Linked DNA regions of Homo sapiens: region 1 is linked to region 2. A link means that fine-mapping ties the variant in region 2 to the expression of a gene that starts in the linked region. Tissue or cell type: whole blood. Region 2 holds a variant in brackets; the other region holds the start of a gene. All regions are shown on one strand. Distances are between the middles of the regions.

Region 1 (8,107 bases), 370 kb after region 2:
ATTTTGTACTATATTGCCTGGCAAATGCTTGTTTCCTTTCAAAGGAAATGCAGTACAAGGAAGCAAGAAAAACTTTTTCGTATCAGAAGTTCACTGTTTTCTGCATCAGAATATAATGGTTACCTAAGGAAGAAATACTATCCAAAGTCAGAATTATATAAGTTATTGTCAAGCACAAGGCATATTTTTGTTAAATTGTCAATTGTTTAAAATAACATGACTGTGAGGTTATGTAACATCATAATTGGAAAGTTCAGGCAACATTTTTTGAAGGACTTAATAAATACCACCTACCTCTTATGCATATCCAACAATCATCTTTTTTGTTGTGTTTCTTAAGTTCTTCTTCAGTTACTTCAATTAACCTGCCTTTTAATCCCGTTAGATCCTTTCCACTTTTGGTCAGTCGAATCCAATCCATAAGGCTTCTGCCCTGTTTTAAAGGTACCTAAAAATGGAAAAAGGAAGAATTAAATCTAGCTTCATTACTTTTAATTCCATTTTAAAAGATAATAAAACTCAAATCTAACACTTCTATAAATCCTTTTACAGTTTTAAGAGGCTGTCAACATTGTTTATGCTGTATTTGAATTATAAAAGGTAGGGCTTAGAAATTCTACCACACAAATTTTCACCATATTGATGTCACAGTACAGTAGTCTATCAGTATTCCTGGGGGACTGGTCCTAGGACTTCCCCCTACCCTATACCAAAATCCAGGATGCTCAAGTGTCTCATATAAAATGGCAAAGTACTGACATATAACCTATGAACATTCTCACATATACTTTAAATAATCTCTAGATTACTAATAATACCTAAAGCAATGTAAATGCTATGTAAATGGTTGTTGTATTGCATTGTTTTATAATTCTTATTTTTTTATTGTTGTATTGTTATTTTTAATTTTTTTCCCCAAATATTTTTGATCTAAAGTTGGTTGAATCCTTGGACGCGGAACCCAGGGCTACACAGGGCTGACCATATAACAGGAATGGTATTGAACCAGAAACTAGAAAAGAGGTTCTGGTCCTGGCTCTGACATTAATATGTTACAGTTAACCAGTTTGGACCAAAATTTCTTCACCTTAAAAATCAAAGAGATTTGACAGAAGAAAAGGTAAAGAGACAATTAACTATAGTTGATTTTCTGGACTGTCAAGATAAACAGACTATTAGAAATCATTAGATAGCAATCTTATCTAAGAATCCATTGAGTAACAAAGTTTATCAAATAATGGAAAATAAAACTTGTAACACTGTAGGGAAGGGGTGGCAAACTATGGCCTGTACCTGTTTCTATACAGCCCTTGAGCAAAGAATCGTCTTCACATGTGGTGGTAAAGAGCCTGAAACCTTATGAGGCTCTCAAAGCCGAAAACACCACCTGGCCCTTTGCAGAAAAAAAACTGCCAACCCTTGCCTAGGGAACTTAGTAACAGGATGGTTTGGGTTTTTATTTTGTTTTGTTTTATAAAACACATTTTCAAAGTTTTCAGACGAGAAGTATTATTAGTACTTTGACCAGAACATTTTCAAGATATCTCTATGGAACTAAGCTTGTCTGACTAATTTGTAACGTAGTAACAGAAGAATGTTTAATGTAAAAGCAGACACATTCAAGGATGTTTACATATCTCACTTTCCTGAATCATATCTATTTTAGACATCCATTTACTCCCAAAGTAACCAAGTTAATAGGTCTGTGGTGCCTTTCACATTCTATCCTATCAATCTACATCATTCCATTCTGGCTATCACTGAAACTCTAGGTCTCTTGATCCCAATAAATGAAGTGTGAGAAAATGACCTTTCCCATCCCAAACTAAAATCACTCACCTCTCTCCATTCCATAATCCACAGGATAGTTAAAGCAATCTTTCAGAAATGCAAATCTAATCACAGGCTCTCCCTCCTTCAGTGGCTCCTCAGGTCACCTTACAACAACGTCTCTAAATTCCCTAGGGATTTACCAGGTCTTCACAATCTGGTCACAGTTGACTGTACTAGCTCCATGTTCTAACTTTTGCTCCTTTCCATTATATACTTTAGCCAAATGGGAACTGATTATTTGATTCCTTTATTGCTGTCAAGTACTTGCTTATAGTAGTGTTGCTTTCCCTGCATGGATCAACCTCACTCCAACTCCCATTAATTCCTCTGGAAGGCTTCTCTGATCCTCAACTCCTTAGTGGTCATACCACCCTGTTGTAGTACTTATGACTTTATAACTGAATGTTCACTATTTCATGCAACCTATGAGACTAAACACCTTGAAATCAGAGACCAAAAACTCCAGCATATGGTAGGTTCTCAATAAGTATTTGTTTACCAGTATTAATAGAAATAATAACTATCATATGTTGAGTGCATATTCTGTGTCACACTCAAGTCTGTGAGATCTGAATAAAAGCCTCAGGACAAGTAGCATTTACTGGGTGCTTACCAAGGCTGTGCTAAGAGAAACATTATCTCATTGAATCCTATGAACAATCCTATAAAATGGGTACTGTTATTCTCATTTACATCTGAGGAAACAGACTCAAAGAGATTAACTGGCAGATATGGTGAAAGAATCTAGGTCTTTCTCACTTCAAAATCTGTGCCTTTAAAAAATTACAATAAGCCTTCACTTAAGCTAGTCACTAGGTGCTTGGAAACTAAACTATGTACAACGAAACTAATTTTACCGTGGGTTAATTGACAAACAAAATTTCCTGCAGCATATTTCTGGTCACAAAAACATCACCAGACTTCTAAATAAAGACCAAAATACTTCTAATATTAAACACTGAAAGAAATGTTAGCTATATATACATTTAAGAAAGATTAATTAAAAAACAAGTAAGATAATTATTTACCCAACTATTCCAGTTCAATGTCACAGGTAGTCAGAGCCTATCCCAGTAGCTCAGGGCACAAGGCAGGAACCGACCTTGGACAGGATGCCATCCTATGGCAAGGCACACTCATACACACCCAATATTCACACAGACTGGGACCATTTAGACACACCAATTAACCTAACTTGCATATCTTTGGGCTGTAGCAGGAAACCAGAGTACCCAGAGAAAACCCACGCAGACACAGAGCATGCAAACTCCAAAGACAGTGGCCCTGGCCAAAACGAATTTTTTTTCTCATCAATATTATAACTAAATGCTGTTGAATGAAACAACACTATTTGAGAACCTTTTGTATAATACACGACCTTCCCAACTTGGTTCTATTTTCTCAACCTCTACCCATTTCATCCAAACCTGACTCAGTTTTTACATTCTCAGCATCATCTTGTTTCACAAAGAAAAGAGGAAGAAGACTGGAGTCTGACTTTTCCTTAGAATTGCACAATAATCTTATTTTGTTCTCTTTTTGGACCAAAAACTCACCTTTGCCATCGCCCCCTGTGTGACTTTTTGTCTTTGCTTCTAAGTTTTCTCCTTTAAATGGATGCTAAGAACACAGTTGGTATTTTTAACGAAGAAGGGCAGTAACTCATATTCTAATTCAGAGATTCTTTCTGGAAAGACTGTTATTCAGTCAAGTATTTAGCTTCAAGAAATAGGTCAAAAACCAATGAGAAAAATATACATGATTGGATGGCTAGATGATTGATATATGAATCAGTAAATGAAATTTCACAGCAGAACCACAACACAAGCCTACGCAATTTAGGGCAATATTTCTTAGCCAGTTTCCTTTTCTGCGAAATAGAGACAATAAAAGCTTTCACTTCAAAGGATAATTGTGAAAATTAAAGTTAATACATGCAAAGCACTGAGAATATACACGGCCACCCGTAAGTACTTAAGAAATCTCTGGAAAGCTAATGAAAACCACAGATCCCTGAACCTATATTCATTCTGAACTAGAATCAGAACGCCAGGTCTAAGTGGAGAAAAATAAGAAAATCGATAAGGGTTCCAAACGATGCTAAGACTCAAGAGTTAACCGAGTGGCCCAAGTTAAGTGGAAGTGTCACAAACGAAAGATAAAGATATGGTTACAGAATGAGGAACTAACAAATAGGAACAAACAACATTCGCAAAAGAACAAAGAACACAATTTTTATTGAATTCTGCAAATATAAAATATATCTGTACAGTATTCCACCTGTTGCTAACAGCAACTGTGCTCAACAAGAACTCAAGAGTATTATTATATTTGCTTCGAAGTTAGCAAGTGATACTAGTAGAAAAGGCAATGACAAAACAATCAGGTACCAGAGGAAGAAAGAAAGGCAGTATGTCTTGGATAGTGTCTGTAAACCTGACCTAGCTCCCCAACTCCAGAAGTCCCCATCCTTGCACGGACGGTCACTGTCGCCACTGCCAAGCCTTTCCCTCCTGCGAGGGAACCCACATCGAGTGATGTGGTACAACTCCTTCAGGCAGTGAAGAACAAAAGACCAGGGAGAAGATGAGGTTGAGGGAAGGCGGCTAATACCGAGAGCCTATAATACCGCAAACACAGTGCCTGGCTCTGTCATATAAATTTAAATCGCGGGAAAGGACTTGGAGGAAGGGAACGGATAGAGCGGGATAAAGGACCAGAAAGAAGAGGGACTGCTAGGGGAAAGGGAGGAGGTAAGGAGAGTTTAGGGACTGTAGACAAAGTGGGATCAGAAAGAGGTTGCAGGCAAGGACAGCAGGGAACGACAGCTTAGAGAGGGGTGCAGGAGCTGGGAGTTGGGGCGGAAGAAGAGAACACACTGCCAGAGCTCGAAACGCAGCGAGGGGAGAGACTCACGGAGCCACCCGCTTACCTTGCTACGCCCCCCGGAGGCGACACGCTGCTGCGACCTGGGGGCCGGGAAAGACTGGGAAGGGACGTTCAGCATCTTCAAACCCCGGCCCCGGGCCCTGCCCGGGGATCGCCGCCAGACGGGACAGCACCTCCAGCTCCGGCTCTGTGGCCGGGCAGAGGCCAAGCCCCCGACCCACTTCCGGGGTCGCCAGGGGTGAGGCGCATTCTGACGCAGCACGTCCGCGGAGGGCGGAGCCAACGGGACGGAGGGAGGGCCGGCAGGGAGGAAGTACGCATGCTCAGCTAGTTCCGCATCCCGAACTTCAGCACCGGAGCAAGGTGACAGCTATTTCGTGGAAAGATTAGAGAGTGAAGCTGTTCCTTAGCCTTGGTGCTGACCGAATGTGGGAACAAATTCTTAGTCCTGTTAACCCGGAACAGCAATGTCTGTTCATTGTTAAGCAGTACCATCACACTACTTGAAATATGGACTAAAACACACTACTTGAAATATGGACTAAAACGAATTTTAGTTTCTCTGAAATTCTTTCCTGTAAGGCACTAGGCTGTAATGCAAAGAGCATCTCACACCTTTAAGAGCAAAAATATCAAATGTCAACAGCCACTACTGTGGGGTAAGAAGAAAACCTCACCTTTAATCATCCTTAAACTTCACCTTTAAGCATGCTGAGGGCTAATGAATGCGCGAAAGACGTTAGTAAAGTCACCTTCTGCTCTATTCACCCACTCACAAATTCTCCCTCCTTATGTAACTTCCTGTCTTCACTGGGAATTGTGTACTGATGCAGCTCACCTCCAGCTGTGGTGATGAAGTAACGTTTAAAAGTCAGATTTGGTTTGCATGCCATCCCTGCACTTAATGACTGAGCTGTCTTATGCAAGTTACTTTAGTATCTCAAAGTCTCATTTTCCCCATCTGCATAATGGGTTTATTAAAGATTAAAGGATCATGTGTAAACTACATACTGCAGTGCCTGATTAATATTAGGTACTGAATAAGTGGCAGTGGCTGTTTGTGCTATTCCAACATATTAATGGGAAAAGGACCAACACTGTGCAGGTAAACACCAGGCTCTAATGCTCAAAATCTGATGGTTTTTGTTTGTTTGATTGATTGTTTTGTGTGTCCCTTGGGGAACACATAGATCTTGAGAGTAGAATCCAATAAGGGAGAAAGTTTTCAGGAGAAGAAACATAGTTCTAAATAATCCTCCCCATCCTCCTTTAATTACTAATTTTTCCTAACTCTGAACATATTGTCATGCTTTAAACTTTCTCTGTTTAACTACTTAGTTCTTAAAGTGCCTAAAAAATCAAGGTTATGTTTGCAGAATCAGAAGAAAAAGTGTGTGACTATATGTGGCCATTCAAATACAAGCATTCAAATAAGGTAGCCACCTATGACATTCACCTCTATCCATTTTTATTTGCAATTGAAATGCTTATTATGAGAAGACTGAATTTGAGCTAAAAGAACCTCATGACTATAATTAACTGTATTACTTTGACTTTGCAAATTGCTTCTGTGTTCTCTCTCATTAAATGATGACATATTCTTCTAGAGTCTACACAAGAAAAACTAATCACTGAGATTTATTTCACTTCTCGTGAGAAAACTTTTACATAAGAATATCAAAAGCAGAGAACCAGAGCAAGGAAAAGTTAATATTGTTGAAGAATGTTCCATGCTTTCCAAATTTCTTAGCTCCCCTTTGTACAGAAATGGAAGATGCTATCAACTTCTGGCCTTTAGACTCCACTTTTTTAGACTCCATATCAATCACTCAAATTTAAACGTTTTGTTTTAATTCTAGGGATCCCTCAATGTAGTACATTAAGTATTAAACATCCATACTATTTTACTACTGGATTTAAGGACTGAAGAGGAGTATTAAAATATGAGTTACTTTGCTCATCATTTATTTAAAATATCTATAATTTAAAAGCCCTAAGATTGATTCCCTTTTTCAATTACAGGTAATGATTTAATGTGTTTTTCTCCATCTGCTAAGAAATCTTTACTAATAAATGAGTGATTTCTAACATAAGTCTATTTTCTTCATTATCTAATAAGATAACATTGATATGTAACTACAACATCCAACTGGCATCAGTAGGAAATAGCAGATGTTAAAAGATTCAGTCTTGAGAATTAAATACTGTCATTCTTTGCAAAATTATAACTAAATATAAATGTGCAATTTAACGAAAAGAAAAATGTATTCTTTGTAAGCCCCAAATATTTATAATACAATCAAGACATTTGTAGATGGCACCTGTTTTAGATTCCAACATTCAATTCTAGTGTAGGGATAAAGAAAAGGCCAAATACCAGAATAATTACAAAATATTTCATTTTATTAATAATTTATATACAAATAAATTAGTTTAAAATAATTATGATACATTTGTACACTAAATTTAAACCCCACAAGCTTTGGATATAATCAAAAGTAGCTAATCAGATTAATTTTCACAGGTCAGATCCTCAATTTCATCTTCGCTATCAGAATCTTCATAAAATGAAATTGTGGCTTGAATTGGAAAATTTTTCAGAAGAGCTTCTGCTTCTTGATATAAGTAATCATAACATTTTGATTTTGGCCAAAATAGTCTGAAAGAAGCAGACAACATGTTTTATTTTTTCACATTCAGGATCTTTAAACTCATGAAATGGTCAAATTTCAAGAGCTCCATATATTTAACAATTGACTTATACATTTGGATATAGCCTTAAGATACAGAGTTAAAATATGCTACTATCACAGCCTTCATGGAATCTACCTGCCCAAGTATCAATAATTGTTTGATTATTGTAAATCTTTATTCAAGCTGTAAATTGGATCAAACAAATTTACACTAAACCCTGGATATGCATAAGATCAATGTTTACCTTACTTTGTACATTATGGATATATTTATTCTTATAATATATAGAAGATTTGTCTTCCAGTTTCTAAATTCCTTTGGAAAAAATGAATTGAGTTCTACCACTACATTAAAAACTTTAATGATAGCCAGCTTTATAAAGATGACAAAATATTATGCACCTTACAAAAAGGTGGAAATAACCTATTATCTTATTTAAAACTCACAGATTTAACTCTTATAGAAGTAGACAACGTAAGTTTAAAAATGTATAAAAACCAGTATTTTAAAATTTTTGTCTATGCACTCACAACTTGAGGCATAGAAAGACTACTTCTGACCTCAACTTTGATTCTATGTGCCTGTCTTCTCCCCATTCAACTAAATTTGTGAATATCATATGAAATGTTGAGAAATTATATATGTTTTATACAAATAACTGGCATGTAAGTATTATTACCTCAGAATTTCA
Region 2 (8,107 bases):
CCCTTCCACAATTCAGCATAACAAACTCTTGGATCCTATAAGCATAAGTTTTGTAGGTTTACGCATAGAGACAAAATGATTATTCACTCTTTAGACACAGTAACATTCATCTTCCACTCCTTATACCAAAGCTCCAATTCTAACCTCAATAGGACTGAACTCTGTACCAGAGCTGCAAATAATTCTGCATGCCTTGGTGAGTGGGGGTGAGAGGAGGCTGTAGAAGAGAATAGTGCCGACCATACCATGCAAGTCCTTGTAGATATTTGGATTTTAGTACAAATACAGAGAGAAATCATTGTAGGATTTTCAGCAATGGAGTAACCTGATTTACATTTTCAAATTATCACATTTTCTATTGTGTAGACAATGGGTTAGACGAGGATAGGAGTAGAAATAGAGAAACTTGTTAGAAGGCTAATGAAGCAGCTCAGACAAGAGGAAAAGATGCCTCTATCATTAGTAATTAAGATGTAAAATGAACAGAATAGAGACACATTTTGGAGGTAGCACCAACAAGTCTTGACGAATAAAATATGGGAGAGAGGGAACTCCCAGATTTCTGTCTTGAATGAGTAGGTGTATGGAAGTACCATGAAGTGTGACAGAATAAGAGTCCAGAAATAAGCCCTAAGAAATTCTAACATTGGCCAGGCGCGGTGGCTCACACCTGTAATCCCAACACTTTGGGAGGCCAAGGTGGGCAGATCAGGAGTTCAAGACTAGCCTGACTAACATGGTGAAACTCTGTCTCTACTAAAAACACAAAATTAGCCAGGTGTGGTGGTGGGCACCTGTAATCCCAGTTACTCGGGAGGCTGAGGCAGGAGAATCAGTTGAACCCAGGAGGTGGAGGTTGCAGTGAGCCGAGATCGCACTATTGTACTCCAGCCTGGGTGACAGAGCAAGACTCCGTCTCAAAAAAATAGAAATTAAAAAAAAAGAAAGAAAGAAAAGAAAAAAAGAAAAAGAAGAAAAGAAAAGAAATTCTAACATTTAGAGGTCAGCTAGGATAGACAGAGACAGTGAAAACCCTTGAGGGGAGGCTATAAATGTGAAAGAAAAACCAAGAAAGAGAGGAGACAAGTGTATCAAATAGTATTGGGAGATCAAATAAAGCGCTGTCATATATGTACACTTACACACACAGAGACAGGATTAAAAGGTCTGACAAAAGGGAGGTAAAGTGGAAATAATTCCTCAGAAAAGATTGGCAAGTAAGGTGAGGAGACAGATCATTTCAACCACTGGGAAATAATAGCATGAAGAGAATGTGTCAGAAGTGATGTTTTAGGTGGGGATCTCAAGGCATGTTCAAATGCTGTTAGGAAAAATCCCACAGCCAGCCAGAAGTCGAAGATACAGGATTAAGGGAAATGACCAGTGGAACAAGATCAGTGAGAAGAAGAATGGGTAAAGGCTCTAGATCATATGTGGGAAGGTAAGTCTTTGATAGAAGGTGGCAGGAAGTCAACTTCTCAATAAATGGTAGCTTAAGATATTTCTTTTATTATTCATATTTGCATCATAGTCCACAGCTCCTGGTTTGTACATATTTGTATTGCAAGAAAGACTTGATGAATAAACAGTTCTAGCTAAAGATGAGGTCCTGAACTAAGTCTACCATCAGCAAAACCTGCAGCTGTTGTAGATTTTACTTACACTATGCTAAATGTTGTCCTCTGAAACTCCAGCTAATGTTGCATGCTTTGAAAAAAAGAAAAGAAATAGAAAACAAAATCCAAGTCAGTAATTGTGAAATGCCAGTAAAGAATGCAGTTTTGAAAAGTAGGGGTAGCGGGAGGAGCAATAACTTAATAAGAATCTTGCTGTTTGCGTATTTTCGATTTCTTGCCCACTAGGTGGTGGAACAGAGTCCCCATCTAAACGACAGTTTTTTTCCTCACAGGTTTGTGTTTCTCTCACAATGCCTACACAGGTCTTTGCAGGCCAAAGAAATCCAAGAAATTCAATCTCTTCAAAATTGCCCCTTGGAAAAACAGAGCGCTCGAATGACAAGTGTGGGGAAGGCGGGAGGCGACGATGCGGAGTGCGGAAACACAAGGACCAGGGGAGCTAAACTACATTTCCCAGAAAGCCACGGGCTGGCCTACAACCACCGCGCCCTCCAAGCCTGCTGGAAGCCTCCGTCTCGCTTCTCCAGTAACCGGTTTGCCGCTGTCCCCTTTTCTAAGGAACGTAGAGAAAGCCAGGGAAGGAAAGGCATTTTACTGCAGCAGCGAAGGTTTAGCCACTAGAGTGTCTTTCTCAGCCGTGGTTATTCCGACCTTCGCTTGTAAAGGCATTGGGAAACCCACGGCCCACGTGACCAGCCCGGGTCATGTGACTCCAGAACCCGGCAGCTGAAGTCTGTTACCCTGACAACTGGTGGACCCGCACAGACCTTCCGGGAAAGCGCGGAATTCAGAGGCAGAGGTAGGTGGTAAGGTGTGAACGCTGGTTTCCCACCCAAATCGCCCTGGTCGAGGCCGTGCTTCATACTCGAGCGAAGGGCTTTAATTTTCCAGGTCATTCCCCTTCTCCGCCCGGAGCCCACGGCAAATGCGTCTTTGTCTTCCCTCCAATTCCCGAACCCGCGCTTCTGGGGACGGGGTCGCAGCCAGGCTTGAGAAGCTTTTAGTGGAGCTCACCCCTGACCAAGCTATTCAGGCCAAGACCTTAACCGCACTTACCCTGAACTGATCGAAAGTGCAAATGAGGGGAAGAGGTGTTACTCTGCACGATGGGGAGGGTATTGTCCGGGTCTGCAAGCCCTCTTCCCCTCCCCCATCTCTACAGAAGAAAGCTGGGATTTGAGCTGCTCTAGGGAGTTCAGGAGCTGGGGGTCGACCCAAGGTTGGGTTCATTAGGTGTCTAGGGGAACGCTTTCCGTTGCAAATCACTGGATTCTGCTTGTGTTCAGCACATAATTTTTGTCGGTCTTCCCTCGCTTCAAAAGAAACATAGTACTGATTTGTGTACTCCATTAACTTTAAGTATTCTTTAAGTATTTTGACTAAATTACTAATTCTTACTAAATTCTATTTGTGTATATTTTGAAACATCCCCGTATCTGGATACAGTCTGCTTTACGAAACTATGCAGTCTGCTTTACGAAACTATTACTATGGATTGGTAAAATAACGAGCCGAGTGATAAGGCAGCACAAACTGTCGTGTGCTTTGCAAGAAAGAAACAGTCCTTTGGATTTGCTAACTTACAGTTTTTAAGATTCCCTGTGAGGACCTGGTTTGTGTTTGAGAGGTACTAATTAACACATGCACACAAACATAGGTTTGGGAAATATTGTAGAGACCACTCTTTAACAATTGGATGTTAACAGATGAAAACATAATTCTGAACGTTGAGTACAAGACATCCTGTCAAAGCTGCTTTTCCAAATCAGTTTGCTTAATGAATTAGGAATCTCTTGACCAGCTCTTACTGGTTAAAAAAAATTGTGCATATATACTGAATCATAACAAATGTCCGAAGTTTAAGTCTGGTCGTGTTCATGATCTGATGGATTTCCTCAAAAGATGTTTATGTCTCTTGTCATTTAGTGTTTCCAATGTTTGAGGTACTTTAGAATGTTTACTTTGGGAGGTCAAAATTGTTGACTATGGCTAACTGTTCCCAAGAAGAGCTAGATGAAGAGTTTGAACAGTTTATGAAAGAGGTAAGTTTATATTTTTAAAAGCTATATTGTCAAATTTGTCTCAAAAGACTCATCCTTCAATTCTGTCATCTCGAAGATACAGTTAGTCCATCACCAAACTCTGAATTCCCATCATCCCTCTAGCCCTGTCCCTTTTCTGCCACTGCTAGTTCAGTGCCATCATCTCAACTGGGCTATGGCAGCAGTTCTCAACTCATGGTCCAGCATTCCTTTCACCACACTGCAGTCAGACTCTGTTCCTCCCCAGTAAAAGACTCTATTGGTCTCCCATCACATGTAGAAAAAAA[A/C]AAACAAACAACTCCTCCTTACCATGGTTTTAAAGCCTTTCATGATTTCACTCTTACATATCTCACTGCCTTCATATCCCTCTTTCACCCACTTTATTTATTCCACAGTGGCCTTTTTTCTTTCCCAGACATTGCAAGCTCATTTCACCTTAGGAGCTTTGCACTCACTGTTCCCTCTGCCAATAATGCTCCTCCCTTACTCTTTACCTGGCTGGTGAAAATCTTAACTTAAATATCACCACTTCAGAGAGGCTTCTTCTGTTTATCCAGTAAAAGGTAAACACAAAGTCACTTCTTAATCTGGTATGTATTTAATTCTTTTTATAGCACTTAGCACATTAATTATTTTTCTTGTATGGGTCTGTTTTCTGCTTCCCATTATAAGAATGTATGGTCTGTAATGTGATGACTCTACGTTCATTGCTATTATATATCAACATGTTCACTACTATGTCTACAGTACCTAATAAATACTTAATAAATATTTGAATGAGTATATTAAATGGTTATACCACGTTCTGTGTACAGTCATGCACCTCATAAAGATGGTTTGGTCAGCAACAGACCACATATACAACAATGGTTCCGTAAGATTATAATGGGGCTGCCCTATAAAGGTGTATCTTTTTAATCTTTTGTACCATATGTTTACTTTTCTATGTTTAGATACAGAAATGCTTGCCATTGTGTTACAGTTGCCTGCAGGATTCAGTACAGTACATGCTGAACAGCTTTGTAACCTAGGAGCAATAAGCTATACCATATAGCCTAGGTGTGGAGTAGGCTATACCATGGAGCCATCTAGGTTTGTGTAAATATACTCTATGATGCTCCTATGATGAAATCCCATTTCTCAGAACATATCCCCATAATTAAGCGATGCATAAAACTCTATTTATATAAATGGAGGGGCCTTGTAGAGCATTCAAGAGAGTCACATTTTAAGCTATTATACGTTATACATTCTTGTTAAAAAAGGGAGTTTAATGTAGTACAAAAAAACTTCATTATCCGTCTCATGGAAAAATAATGCCTTCTTTGTAGAATTGTTTTAAGGATTTAAAAAAGCATCTACCAATTGTCAAGATGTAATAGGCACTTGGAATAAGTTTCATTTACCATTTGAAAAGTTGATTTTTTAAAATTTCAAATACAGACACATTTTGAAAATTAAATTTATAGGAATGATTTTTATTGTAAAAGATAGCAGAACAGGCCTTTTAGAAGATGTTTTTATTCTTCCCTCATTTACCACCCTTCCAGCACACACATTCTCCAACACTCTCCTTCCCCCACCCTTCTGTCTGTGTCTCTCTTCCTCTTATATCCATCCTCAGTTGCAATGTGTCATTTTTTTTTTACTGTGAAAGTCATGATTTTAGAGTCATGCTAACTTTTCTCACTTTGATAAATTATTGTTCAAACAATTTATTCAAAGACATAGTTTATATATCTTTATTTTTTAGGACAGTAGTGGTAACCAGCTTTTTAAAAATAGCTTTATTGAGACATAATTCACATACCATTTAATTCACCCATTTTAAATGTGCAGTTCTGTGGTTTCAGAGTTATGTAACCATCACCACAATCAATTATAGGAATTTTTATCACCCCAGAAAGAAATCCCATATCTGTTAGCAGTTACTCCATCTCCTTGTTCCCCCTTCCCTAGCCTTAGGCAACTACTAAGCTGACTTCTGTCTCTAAATGTTTGCCTGTTACAGACATTTCATAGAAATTGTATTATATATTATGGGGCCCTTTGGGTCTGGTTTCTTGTACTTAGCATGATGTTTTCAAGGTTCATCCATGTCGTAGTATGTATTAACACTTCATTTCTTTTTATGGATAAGTAATATTTCATTGTGTAGATGTACCACATTTTGTTTTTCCACCTGTCAGTTGACGGACATCTGGGTTCTTTCCACTTTTTGGCAGTTACAAACAATGCTGCCATGAACAATCATGTACAAGTTTTTGTGTGGATGTGTTTTTGTTCCTCTTGTGTATATGCCAAAGAGTGAAATTGCTGTATCATATGGTAGCTGTGTGTTTGCCTATTTTCTAAAATGACTGTGTTATTTTACATTTCCACTAGTAGTGTATTAGTTTATCAGAGTTCCAATTTCTTTTTTTTTTTTCTTGAGACTGAGTCTTGCTCTGTTGCCCAGGCTGGAGTGCTGTGGTGCAATCTTGGCTGACTGCAACTCTGCCTTCTGGGCTTAAGCAATTCCTATGCCTCAGCCTCCTAAATTGCTGAGATTACAGGCGCCTGCCACCACGCCCAGCTAATTTTTATGCTTTTAGTAGAAATGGGGTTTCACCATGTTGGCCAGTCTGGTCCGAAACACCTGACCTCAAGTGATCCGCCTGCCTCGGCCTCTCAAAGTGCTGGGATTACAGGTGTGAGCCACCACACCCAGCCTAGAGTTCCAGTTTCTCCATATCCTTGCCAACAACTGTTGTATCTGAGAATCAGCCTTTTTGTTGTTTTATTTCTATTTATTTTATTTTTATTTTTATTTATTTATTTATTTATTTATTTATTTTTGAGATAGAGCCTTGCTCTGTCACCCAGGCTGGAGTGCAGTGACGCAATCTTGGCTCACTGCAACCTCTGCCTCCCGGGTTCAAGTGATTCTCCTGCGTCAGCCTCCTGAGTAGCTGGGATTACAGGCATGCGCCACCACGCCCAGCTAATTTTTGTATTTTTAGTAGAGACATGGTTTCACCATGTTGGTCAGGCTGGTCTCAAACTCCTGACCTCGTGATCCGCCCACCTCGGCTTCCCAAAGTGCTGGGATTACAGGTGTGAGCCACCACGCCCGGCCTGTTTTGTTTTATTTTTAATGAATCATATTCATTAAAAATAATTAATGAAAGTGCTGGGAAGCACTGTGGAAGGTTGTTTAAAGTAAGAACACTTATCATGTATTAGAAGTCTTCATTTCTTTTTTTCTTCTTTGTCATGGCCCTACAAGGTCAGTAGTACCATGCCTATGTTACAGATAAATTGAAAAAATGGGAGGAAAGAGAAATGGAACACCTCAAGGTGATACTGAAGTTTAGAGAGTAAGTAAAAAGTGATGCAGCTAACTAATTTCAGAAATTCAGATGGTTTAAGGAATATTTTTTCTTCCCTCCTCCTGTCTTCCTACCTGTTTGTTAGTGAAGACAGTTAAGTTCTTCTTGAACATTTTTAAATTGACATTCTTCAAGTCACTGAGGTAGAGTTTTTTGTTTGGCAAGTGGAAGATTGTGTGTGTGTGTGTGTGTGCACGCGCGTGTGCGCCCTGTCATTTTAGAAGTTTAAAAGGTCACTCAGATAACAATATTCTAGTTGGGGAACTACATAGTATAGTGGAAAGTGGACAGGAGTTAGTCAGACATGGGTTTAAATGTGACTTTGTAACACTTACTAACAGTAGCAACTTAAGCAAGTTGCTTAGCCTCTTAGAGCTTCAGTTTCACCATGAGTAAATTTCTGCAGGGTAGTTTAAAGATTAAGTGAGTTAACCTGAGTGTAGATCCTGACATAGAGCAGGCATGTAGTAAATGTTGGTTTCTTTTCCAGAAAAAGTAATGTAGAATGAGATTGAAAAAGGATCAAGAGCAGAGTCCTGGAAAAGTCTGTTAAATAAATGGGCAAAAAGCCAAAGCTATTAAAATAGATGGAGGGGAGTAGCCACAGATCTGAAGAATAACCCGGAGGAAGTGATGCTACTAAAGTCAAGGTAGAGAGTTTCAAGAAGTAAGAGTTTAAGAGTTGATCACCAGTAGCAAATTCCATGATGTGATCAGGGAGGATAACTGACAGTGGTACTTTATTTGTGGCATTTCGGAGGCCTTTGGTGCCTGGAGGAGAGCTGTTTTGGTTGGGAACCAGATTATAAGGGGTTAAGTGAACTCAAGGAGTTGGTATATCAAGGAAATGTGATAGAGTAAAAGGGACGTAGGGATAAGGAATTTTTTTGTTTTGTTCTACTTTTTTTTTTTCAAAGTTGAGTAGAATGCTCATTTTTTCATTCCGCAATTGTGCCTGGTACTATGCTAGGCACTGGAGATGCAGTGCTGAGCAGGTGTATAATCAGAGGGAAGGGCGGGGAGTAGAGAGAGAAGGGAGTGAAGATACAGATATCAA

Evidence for each region. PIP is the estimated chance that this variant, and not a neighbour inherited with it, causes the effect.
Region 1: it holds the start of CYB5R4, and the variant in region 2 is fine-mapped to the expression of CYB5R4 in whole blood (INTERVAL, PIP above 0.99).

The regions. Positions count from the first base shown.
Region 1 is chr6:83,856,516-83,864,622 of GRCh38, reverse strand. CYB5R4 (cytochrome b5 reductase 4) reads right to left here and starts at 4,934. Exons shown (of 16, transcript NM_016230.4): 1 at 4,766-4,934; 2 at 295-448. The coding sequence starts at 4,840. RIPPLY2 (ripply transcriptional repressor 2) reads right to left here. Exons shown (of 4, transcript NM_001009994.3): 4 at 7,108-7,381. The coding sequence ends at 7,234. It overlaps RIPPLY2-CYB5R4 (RIPPLY2-CYB5R4 readthrough), which reads right to left. Exons shown (of 18, transcript NR_174604.1): 4 at 295-448. RefSeq lists a silencer at 4,814-4,863.
Region 2 is chr6:84,221,909-84,230,015 of GRCh38, reverse strand. CEP162 (centrosomal protein 162) reads left to right here and starts at 2,373. Exons shown (of 27, transcript NM_014895.4): 1 at 2,373-2,436; 2 at 3,564-3,679. The coding sequence starts at 3,623. RefSeq lists enhancers at 1,898-2,057, 1,959-2,459, 2,460-2,960. The variant A/C (reference allele first, on the strand shown) is at 3,967.